2 separate regions of the Homo sapiens genome follow, and region 1 is linked to region 2. A link means that fine-mapping ties the variant in region 2 to the expression of a gene that starts in the linked region. Tissue or cell type: whole blood. Region 2 holds a variant in brackets; the other region holds the start of a gene. All regions are shown on one strand. Distances are from middle to middle.

Region 1 (6,200 bases), 28 kb after region 2:
TGACTCACTGAAAGTGACCCAGGGCTCCCCGCCGCCTGGACCAGCCCAGTGCAGAAGCACCTTCAGGCCTCCCATGGCAGCCATGGGCTGGGCTCCATCCCCAACGGGCTTACTGCCCCTGGCCATCCCCCAGTGGCGCAGAGGCATGCTCCCGGCAGGTGGCTCAGCTGGAAAGGGGACAATCTGTCAGCTCCCAAGTCTCAGCCCAGAGACCCCTGTTAGCTCTTCAACCTTCCACCCACCCCAGCTAAGGCCTGAGGGGAAGATTCTGGGCTCCCATCTTGGCATGACATTAGAGACCCGATTCCCTCTCTGAGTCTCGTTTTCCACATTTATTGGACAGGGTTGGGGTATGCATCCCCACCTAGATCTCTCATCAACAATAACACTGAACCCTCCTCTCTTTCCACAAATTGACACAGATATAAAAATCTGCTCTGGCCAGGTACAGTGGCTCACGCCTCTAATCCCAGGACTTTGGGATGTTGAGGCAAGAGGATTGCTTGAGCCCAGGAGCTCGAGACCAGCCTAGGCCATATAGCAAGACCCTGTTTCTACAAGACGTTTTATTTTATATCTTATCTTATCTTATCTTATCTTATCTTATCTTATCTTATCTTATTTTTGAGACAGAGTTTCACTCTTGTTGCCCAGGCTGGAGTGCAATGGTACAATCTTGCTCACCACAACCTCTGCCTCCTGGGTTTAAGTGATTCTCCTGCCTCAGCCTCCTGAGTAGCTGGCGCCTGCCACCACACCGGGCTAATTTTTGTATTTTTAGTAGAGACAGGGTTTTGCCATGTTGGCCAGGCTGGTCTTGAACCTCTGACCTCAGGTGATCCACCCGCCTCGGCCTCCCAAAGTGCTGGGATTACAGGCGTGAGCCACTGTGCCCGGCCTCTACAAGAAATTTTTAAAATTTAGCCAGGCGTGGGGGTGCACATCTGTACTCCAAGCTACTCGGGAGGCTGAAGTGGGAGGATCTCCTGAGCCCAGGAGTTGGAGGCTGCAGTGAGCAGTGATCGCACCACTGCATTCCAGCCTGGGTGACAGAGTGAGACCCTGACTCTAAAAATATAAATAAATAAATAAATAAATAAGTAATAAAAATATATAAAAAGGGCCAGGCGCGGTGGCTCATGACTGTAATCCCAGCACTTTGGGAGGCCAAGGCGGACAGATCACGAGGTCTGGAGATTGAGACCATCTTGACCAACATGGTGAAACCCCATCTCTACTAAAATACAATAAATAAATAAATAAATAAATAAATAAATAAATAAAAAGTAAAATAAAAATCTGCTCTTAACACACCTCCCCAAAATAACCAGACAGGCAGATGTGGTCAAACATACCTGAGGGTGAGTCCTGGAGCTCCCTGTGTCAACTCAAGCAAGCCACTTAGCAATTCTGGGCCTCAGTTTCCCCATCTGGAAAAGGGAGGTCCTCAGGGTGTTGCCATCAAAAGATGGTTGTAATGTTTCAATATAGTTCCGCATATTACACATTCAGCACAGACCCTGATTCAGGCACACACAAAAAGAACAAATATGACCAAAACAAGAATAACATAATTGTTATTAGTTTCATCGTGGTGATGGCCTCTTTCAGGCCACAATTCTCCTCTCCCACATTTACCCCCATGAGTGACCTCAGTCCCTGTTGACTCCCCAAAGCCTAGGAGAGTTTATGTCCAGCTCCATCCCCCCAATCCAGGGCCTGAGCCTCCTGAGGGCGCCAGTATGGAAGTGGAGGGGCTGTCACTTCCACCCATGTTGCTGGTTTCCTCATCTGGAAAATGGGCATGTAACAGTGTCTACCTCAAAAGGCTGCTGGGAGGATTTAACGCGAGGAGGCAGAGAAAGTGCCTGGTATACAGTAAGCGCTTAATTAGCCTTTGCCATTAATACCTATTCATGTTATAGATGAGATCCCGGGGATGGGGCTTTCGCGGAGCCTACTTCCTCCTTCCTCCTTTCTCGTCCCCACTGGACCCAGACCCAGCTTTGAAGACAGGGTCGGAGTGAAGTTTGCAACTGGGAAGGCTGCACGCCCCCATGTCCTCCCCCCAAAACCTCTAAACCCGGCCGGCAACGGCGGGAACTGGGATGTGCACCCACCGGGCATCGGAGCAGTCCCGAGGCACCAGGTGCTCCCATCCAAGTGCAGCCTGTCAAGCGCAGCCAGTCCCCGCGGCTTCTTCCTGAGGACCTCCGGCCGCGCTCCTTCCGCGCCCGCGTCCAGACTCACCCTTCCGGGGGAACACAAGCTCGAACCCGGACCCCTCCCCGCTCCCGCGGGTAGCTACTGCTTGTCCCCCGCCGAGACGCCTCCTCCCATTGGCCGCCTGAAACGCACACGCCCATTGGCAGCTGCTCTGTTCTCCCTGCTCGTCACCATTGGATTTTTTTTTTTTTGCCATGGTGGCGGCACTCTCATTGGTCCTGGGGCTCATTCGTCACTCAGCCGCGATTGGCTGAGTCGGCACCCAGATGCGCTGTCGCTTCTGCTATTGGCTGGCACTCGGTGGACGGAGACGGGGGAGGGGCTTGCGAGAGGCGGGAGGGAGAGCGAAGTGTGTGGGCAACGCGGCCGGATCCTGGAGTTCCCCTCCGTGCTGTGGAATTGGGTCAGGCGTGTACGGTCCTGACCCTAGGACACAGCTGCATGTCCTCACCTCGGTGTTCAAAGCTGCACCGGCCACCATTCAACCCTCCGACGCCCTGCCCTTTGGCTTCCCCGTTCCATCCGGTCCTGTCTCCTTTCCCTCGTTTCTACCTGGCCGACTCCATCCTGCTGACTAGAATTCCCCCTCCTTCACTCCTGGGAGGCATTCCTCGCCCACCTGCCCCAGTCCTCTTCCTGATCACCTGCAGCCCTGTCCTCTGAAGCTCCCTAGCGGTCAGGGTAGCAGCTTGGACATCCCGCCAGACGTGAATTCAAATCCCCACTCCGCAAGTCGTGCCCATTTGCTGAGAAGCCTACAGCCAGAGCGTTTCACATACATTATCTCATTTGATCCTAGCAGCAATTCCCTGTATGGCGGCTCTTATTATCCCCATTTCACAGAGGAAGAAACTCAGGCATGAAGAGGTAACAAAGACCGTCCTCTGACCCTTCTTCTGTGCCACACCATAACCACTCCTCGACTTTGTCTTTCACCTGCCCAGCCAAGTCTTAGCAAAGAAGCCTATTAAGTCATCCGCTCATCCTTGATGTCTGATCAACTTCCTCATCTTCCACTTTTTTTTTTTTTTTTTTTTAAGATGGAGTTTCGCTCTTGTCGCCCAGGCTGGAGTGCAATGCTGCGATCTCGGCTCACTGCAACCTCAGACTCCCGGATTCAAGCGATTCTCCTGCCTCAGCCTCCTGGGTAGCTGGGACAACAGGCGCCCGCCACCACGCCCGGCTAATTTTTGTATTTTTAGTAGAGATGGGATTTCACCATCTTGGCCAGGCTGGTCTCGAACTCCTGACCTCGTGATCCACCCTCCCAAAGCGCTGGGATTACAGGCGTGAGCCACCGCACCCGGCCCTTTTGTTGTTAATTTTTAAATTTTGTGGCTAATTTTTAAATTTTTGTAGAGATGGGGTCTGGCTATGTTGCCCAGGCTGGTCTTGAACTTCTGGCCTCAAGCAATCATCCTGCCTTGGCTTTCCAAAGTGCTGGGATTACAGATGTGAGCTAAGACACCCAGCTCCATGGAGTTGGTCTTAACTGCCATGGCCAAGGGACATGTGGCTGCTTCTCTCTGAGTCAGAAAATATGGGTAAAAAGCCTCCTCACAGGGCAGCTGTGGACATTCAGTATGAAAATGCTGAAAGAGATCGGGAATGGTCTCTTTCACACCTGTAATCCCAGCACTTTGGGAGGTGGAGGCGGGCGGATCACCTGAGGTCAGGAGTTCAAGACCAGACTGGCCAACATGGTGAAACCCTGTCTCTACTAAAAATGCAAAAATTAGCTGGGCATGGTGGTGGGCACCTGTAATCCCAGCTATTCAGGAGGCTGAGGCAGGAGAATCGCTTGAACTTGGGAGGCAGAAGTTGCAGTGAGCCGAGATCACACCATTGCCCTTCAGCCTGGGCAACAAGAGCTAAACTCTGTCTCAAAAAAAAAAAAAGAAAAAGAAAAAGAAAGAAAATGCTGATAGAGGCCGGGCACAGTGGCTCACGCCTGTAATCCCAGCACTTTGGGAGGCCGAGGTGGGCGGATCATGAGGTCAGGAAATCGAGACCATCCTGGCTAAGGCGGTGAAACCCCGTCTCTACTAAAAATACAAACAATTAGCTGGGCGTAGTGGCAGCCTGAGGCAGGAGAATGGCGTGAACCGGGGAGGCGGAGCTTGCAGTGAGCCGAGATTGCGCCACTGCACTCCAGCCTGGGCGCCAGAGTGAGACTCTGTCTCAAAAATAAAATAAAATAAAATAAAATAAAATGCTGATAGAGACTTGTCCTGGCTGGATGCAGTGGCTCATCCCTATAAACCTAGCACTTCAGGGAGCTAAAGAAGGAGTACTGTCTGGGCCCAGTTCAAGACCAACCTGGGCAATATAGCAAGACCCCATCTCTACCCAAAATAAAAAAAATTAGTCTAAGGCTGAAGTATGAGAATCGCTTGAGCCCAGGAGGTGGAGGTTGCAGTGGGCTGAGATCCCACCACTGCACTCCAGCTTGGGCTACAGAGTGAGACTCCATCTCGGGGGGAAAAAAAATTAGTTAGTCCCAGCTACTCCGAAGGCTGAGGTGGGAGGATTGCTTGAGCCCAGGAGGTTGAGGCTACAGTGAGCCGTGATCACACCACTGCACTCCAGCCTGGGCAACTTGACCTCCTGGGCTCTGCTGTATTTTCTTCAGAGTCCTTATTGCAACCTGACATTTCATGGGAAGTTTCTTTCTTTTTTTTTTTTTTTAAAGAGACAGAGTCTTGCTCTGTTGCCCAGGCTGGAGTGCAGTGGCGCAATCTTGGCTCACTGCAACCTCTGCCTCTCAGGTTCAAGCAATTCTCCTGCGTCAGCATCCCCGGTAGCTGGGATTACAGGCGTGCACCACCACGCCTGGCTAATTTTTGTATTTTTAATAGAGACAGGGTTTGGCCAGGTTGGCCATACTGGTCTCGAGCTCCTGACCTCAGGTGATCCACCCGCCTTGGCCTCCCAAAGTGCTGGGATTACAGATGTGAGCCACCGCGCCCAGCTGGGTTTCTCTTCTTTCTTTCTTTCTTTTTTTTTTTTTTTTTTTTTTTTTTGAGACAAGAATCTCGCTCTGTTGCCCAGGCTGGAGTGCAGTGCTGTGATCTCAATTCACTGCAGTCTCAACTTCCCAGATTCACCATTCACAATCTTCCACCTCAGCCTCCTGAGTAGCTGGGACTACAGATGTGCATCACGATGCCTGGGTAACTTTTTTTTTTTTGAGGCGGAGTCTTGCTCTGTTGCTAGGCTGAAGTGCAGTGGCACGATCTCGGCTCACTGTAATCCCTGCCTCCCAGGTTCTAGCGATTCTTCTGCCTCAGCCTCCAGAGAAGCTGGGATTACAGGCGTGTGCCACCACACCCAGCTAATTTTTTTGTATTTTTTAGTAGAGATGGGGTTTCACCATGTTGGCCAGGATGGCCTCAATCTCCTGACCTCATGATCCTCACGCCTCGGCCTCCCAAAGTGCTGGGATTACAGAAGTGAGCCACCGCGCCCAGCCGCCTGGCTAACTTTTGTGTGTGTGTATTTTTTATAGAAATGGGCTTCCACCAACCCCGTCTCTACTAAAAATACAAAAATTAGCCGGGTGTGTTGGTGGGTGCCTATAATCCCAGCTACTTGGGAAGCTGAGGCAGGTGAATCACTTGAACCTGGGAGGCGGAGTTTGCAGTGAGCTGAGATCGCGCCACTGCACTCTAGCCTGGGCGACAGAGTGAGACTCTATCTCAAAAAAAAAAAAAGGAAAAGAAATGGGTTTTCACCATGTTGCCCAGGCTGGTCTCAAACTACTGGGCTCAAGTGGTCCTCCCGCCTTGACCTCCCAAACTGCTGGGATTACAGGCGCATGCCACCACACCCGGCTAATTTTTTAGTATTTTTTAGTAGGGACGAGGTTTCACCATGTGGGCCAGGATGGCCTTGATCTCCTGACCTCGTGATCCTCCCGCCTTGGCCTCCCAAAGTGCTGGGAATACCGGTGTGAGCCACCTCGCCTGGCCGGC
Region 2 (5,000 bases):
TAATCCCAGCACTTTGGAAGGCTGAGGTGGGTGGATCACCTGAGGTCAGGAGTTCGAGACCAGCCTGGCCAACATGGTGAAACCCCATCTCTACTAAAAATACAAAAATTAGCTGGGCATAATGGCAGGCGCCCGTAATCCCAGCTACTTGGGAGGCTGAGGCAGGAGGATCGTCTGAACCTGGGAGGCGGAGGTTGCAGTGAGCCGAGATTGTGCCATTGCACTCCAGCCTGGGATACAAGTGTGAAACTCCATCTCAAAAAAGAAAAAGAAATCACTCTGCAACTTCATGAAATCGACTGCATGGGTTCCAATCCCACCTCTTACACTTCTCAGCTGTGTGACTTTGAATTTGAGTTCACTTCTCTGGGCCTGTTTTCTCATCCGTAAAATAGGGTAATAACATCTGCCACCTGGGATTACTGTGAACGTTAAACTAATATTCATAGAGTAAGCGTGAGTCAGGTGTTTGCCGTTATTATTAAGCCTCACAGCAGATTGTTCTTACCGTCCAGAATTTTTTTTTTGAGACAGTCTCTCGCTCTTTCACCCAGGCTGGAGTGCAGTGGCATGATCTCGGCTCACTGCAACCTTCGCCTACCGGGTTCAAGCAATTCTCCCTGCCTCAGCCGCCTGAGTAGCTGGGATTACAGGCACCTGCCACCACGCCCGGCTAATTTTTGTATTTTTAGTAGAGACGGGGTTTCACCATGTTGGCCAGGCTGGTCTCGATCTCCTGACCTCGTGATCTGCCCGCCTCGGCCTCCCAAAGTGCTGCGATTACAGGTGTCAGCCACCGCGCCCGGCCTATGCCTTTCTTTCCTTTCTTTTCTTTCTCTCTCTCTCCGTCCTGTCCTGTCTTAGACGGAGTCTCGCTCTGTCACCCAGCTGGAGTGCAGTCGGGAGATCTCGGCTCACTGCAAGCTCCGCCTCCCGGGTTCATGCCATTCTCCTGCCTCAGTCTCCTGAGTAGCTGGGACTACAGGCGCCCGCCACCACGCCTGGCTAATTTTTTTTGTATTTTTAGTAGAGACGGGTTTCACCGTGTTAGCCAGGTTGGTCTCGATCTCCTGACCTCGTGATCCGCCCGCCTCGGCCTCCCAAAGTGCTGGGATTACAGGCTTGAGCCACCGCGCCTGGCCCAGCCTATGCCTTTCTAATTGCTCTAGCAAACTCCCGGTGGGGCTGCGGGCCTGGCTCTCACCGTGGGGGGGCTCTGGCTGGAGTCACAGTGCGTCAGCAGCTCATACAGGGTCACCCCGAAGGACCAGACATCTGACGCATAGTAGAACTTATACTCCTTCAGGCACTCTGGGGCATACCTAGGGGGAGGGGGGCACTCAGGCCACGGGGGGCTGCACTGAGGGCTTGGGGATCAGACCAGGCTGAAGCCCTCACCTGAGACTGAAGGACCCTCTGGGCTCAGTTGGGACCCACCCTTAAGAGCGCAGCCTGAGCGGGGTGATATGCTCATTGGCTAGGCCGCTCATTGGCTAGGCCGGGTTAACCCCGCCCACCAGGCCAAGCCGCACTCTATACACCGCCCCTTGCCTCCATAGGCCCCACCCCCGCACCGCTAGGCCCCGCCGCGCTTCACTGGGATCATGCCCTATCATGATACCCAGCATCCGTCTACTCCACCCTGCCTGTTCCAAGTGACCCCAGCACCCCCTCAGACTGCACCCCGCCTGGTCACCAGAACACGGGGCTGTCCCCATCCTCGCGCACGCGGTAGTACTCGTGGCCTTCGGGCACGGCCTTGGCTAGGCCAAAGTCCCCGATCTTGACCAGCCTGTCGTTGTCCAGCAGCACGTTGCGCGCGGCTAGGTCTCGGTGGATGTAGTGCTGCGCGTGCAGATAGGCCATGCCCTGGGGACGGGGCAGGGCTCGTGAGTTTCAGTGGGGCGGGGTTCGGCCGGGGGCGGCGGCAGGACCTGAGCAGCCAGGAGGGCTGGGGGACAGTCAGGTCAGGCCGGTGGCTACCCGGCCGCTGGAGAGGGCCGGATGGCACGTGGCACCAAGCAAAAGGAGGCTGAGCCAGAAAGCAGGGACGGGGCTAGACGAGCAAAGCTGGGCAGGAGGGCGAGTTGGGAGGGGCCGAGCCGGCTGTGCGTGGTCCCTTGGGAGGAGGGGGTGTGGCCAAGCAAGCCAAACAGTTCGGAGGTCAGTGCAAGGACAAGACAGCCTGGGCAAACGAGCAGGGGCGGAGCGTGAGAGCAGACTGCACCGGATCGCTCAGGCCAGCCCAAGCTGAAGAGGAAGGGGCAAGCTCCAGAAGCAGGGGCGGGGCCGACCAACCTCGCAGATCTGCTGGGCGAAGAGCAGCAGCTGGGCCAGCCCGATGCTGTGCCGGGGCAGGTAGTCTCGGAGGCTGCCCAGGGGCACGTACTCCATGACCAGCTGCAGCGACTTCTCGCCTGCCGCGGAGAGGGGCGGCCCCGGTGGGGGACGATAGAGGGCGGGCCGGGGACCGCCTACCTTGAGCCCAGCAGAGCCCCTCCAAGGTCGGGAGGGAAGGCCAAGACCCGCGCACACTAGACCCAGTTCTCAGGTGGGATGGACCCATCCAGAACCCCATTCTCACTTGAGGGAGCTGCTGGTGGCTCCCGTCCATCCTGGCCCCAGCAGGTAGCA[C/T]CCCCCAGATGGGAAGGAGGCAGCCCAGCCACGCTCACCCAGATGCCAAGAACCGCGTACTGCAGCCTGGGGTTGAGAGTCTCTAATTGGCTAGGCCAGACTGGCCCCGCCCACAAGGCCACACCCACGCTCTAACCACGCCCCCTCAAGTCTCTAGGACTCGCCGGGTCCCGCCCACCTTGGTCCTCGCAGCAGCCCTTGTACTTGATGATGTGCTCGTGGTAGAGCGTGCGCAGAATGTCAATCTCCTGCTTCCAGCCCGAGCGGTGCTGGGGGCCGCAGTCTGCCTTGAGGGCTTTCACCGCCACCATCTCGCCAGTGCCGTCGTTGGTCGGATCGTAGCAGTACAAGCTGACCTTGCCGAAGTGACCCTGGTCGGGAGCGCACGAGGGTCAGCTCCACCTCCCCAATCCCTGCACCACTCCCCAACCCCCGATTTCCCGGGCCACTCCTCCAGGCAGATCCTTTCGGAATACCCCAGGCCCCGCCTACTCCGCTCTATTAAGACTCCTTGGCACCTAGGCCTCCCTCAAAGCAGAGGGTCCCACCCACATCTCCTGAGAATCACCTTAGGTAGGAATTTATCCTCAACCCCCAAACTCCTTCCCGACCAGGCGGGCCTTTTAGCAGCTCAGGCCCGTCCCTCACCTCGCCCAGATCTCGGATCTTTTTCAAATAGCGCTTGTGGAAAACCGTAGGGTCCGACGCCGGTGAGTCCGGGTTCACAGTCAAGACGTCAGCAAGATCTGGAAGAGTTGCGGTGGGTAAAGGCCTGACCCCGATCCTTTCCCCAGCAGGCCCACACTTGGGAGTCACAAAGCCAGCCACAGCTACCCCAGGATCCGATTCTAGAGGTAAGAAAACTTTTTCCTGCAACAGCTGAAAGAGTCCACTTATTGTACAAAATGATGCAGAGTTGGCTGCATCAAAACTGACACCTGTTTGGGAGGCCGAGGCGGGAAGATCACTTGAGCCCGGGAGTTCAAGACCAGCCTGGACAACATGGTGAAACCCCCTCTCTACAAAAAAGTTAAAAAAAAAAATTAGCCAGGTGTGGTGGTGCATGCCTGTGGTCCCAGCTACTCAGGAGGCTGAGGTAGGAGGATCGTTTGAGCCCAGGAGTTTTGAGGCTGCAGTGAGTCTGGGCCACAGAGAGACACTGTCTTTAAAAAAAAAAAAAAGAAAGAAAGAAAGAAAAAGAAAAAACAGAAAAACCTGACATCTGGAAGTTCCGAGATTGGGTAGAGGGCACAGATATTTCATAGAGAAAAGAGAAAAACTGGCCAGGCGTGGTGGCTCACACCTGTAATCCCAGCACTTTGGGAGGCCGAGGCAGGAGGATCCCTAGAGCCCAGGAGTCTCAGGCTGCAGTGAGCCATGATCGTGCCTCTGAATAACCACCACACTCCTGCCTGGGCAACACAGCAAGACCTAGTCTTTAAAACAAAAAAGAGAAAGAAAAATGTGATATGACCAGTTGAAAATGGCATATTAGGCCGGGCGTGGTGGCTCACGCCTGTAATCCCAACACTTTGGGAGGCTGAGGAGGGTGGATCACCTGAGGTCAGGAGTTTGAGACCAGCCTAGCCAACACAGTGAAACCCCGTCTCTACTAAAAATACAAAAATTAGCTGGGTGTGGTGGTGGACGCCTGTAATCCCAGCTACTCGGGAGGCTGAGGCAGGAGAATTGCTCGAACCCAGGAGGCGGAGGTTGCAGTGGGCCGAGATCGTGCCATTGCACTCCAGCCTGTGCAACAAGAGCAAAACTCCATCTCAAAAAAAAAAAAAAGAAAGAAAGAAAAAAAAAAAGAAAATAGGTCAGGCGCAGTGGCTCATGCCTGTAATCCCAGCACTTTGGGAGGCCGAGGCGGGTGGATCACGAGGTCAAGAGACTGAGACCATCCTGGCCAACATGGTGAATTCCCGTCTCTACTAAAAATACAAAAATTAGCCCGGCGTGGTGGTGGGCGCCTGTAGTCCCAGCTACCCAGGAGGCTGAGGCAGGACAATTACTTGAACCTGGGAGACGGAGGTTGCAGTGAGCCAAGATTGCACCACTGCACTCCAGCCTGGCAACAGAGTGAGACTCCGTCTCAAAAAAAAGAAAAAAGAGCATATTAATTTTTTAAAGAGAACAATACAAAACTTTTTTAAAAAGAAAAAAAAAACTGCAGTGGTCTAATTCTCTAATCCAAAGAAGTTGTGTCTCTCCCCAGACAAAACATTAAGGAGGCCAGGCGCAGTGGCTCACGCCTGTAATCCCAGCAATTTGGGAGGCTGAAGCAGATAGATCATTTGAGGTCTAGAGTTTGAGACCAGCCTGGCCAACATGGCAAAACCCCACCTCTACTAAAAATACAAAAA

Evidence for each region. PIP is the estimated chance that this variant, and not a neighbour inherited with it, causes the effect.
Region 1: it holds the start of TYK2, and the variant in region 2 is fine-mapped to the expression of TYK2 in whole blood (INTERVAL, PIP above 0.99). The same link has a PIP of 0.9 or more in nasal epithelium.

The regions. Positions count from the first base shown.
Region 1 is chr19:10,378,260-10,384,459 of GRCh38, forward strand. It overlaps TYK2 (tyrosine kinase 2), which reads right to left and starts at 2,313. Exons shown (of 25, transcript NM_003331.5): 1 at 2,121-2,313; 2 at 1,356-1,520; 3 at 1-167. The coding sequence starts at 147. RefSeq lists enhancers at 2,211-2,370, 2,279-2,942.
Region 2 is chr19:10,351,230-10,356,229 of GRCh38, forward strand. TYK2 (tyrosine kinase 2) reads right to left here. Exons shown (of 25, transcript NM_003331.5): 19 at 3,283-3,380; 20 at 2,813-3,005; 21 at 2,299-2,417; 22 at 1,697-1,869; 23 at 1,205-1,322. Among named protein-coding and RNA genes, the nearest start is that of ICAM3, 14 kb to the left of the region's middle. RefSeq lists an enhancer at 2,018-2,781 and a silencer at 2,683-2,732. The variant C/T (reference allele first, on the strand shown) is at 2,635.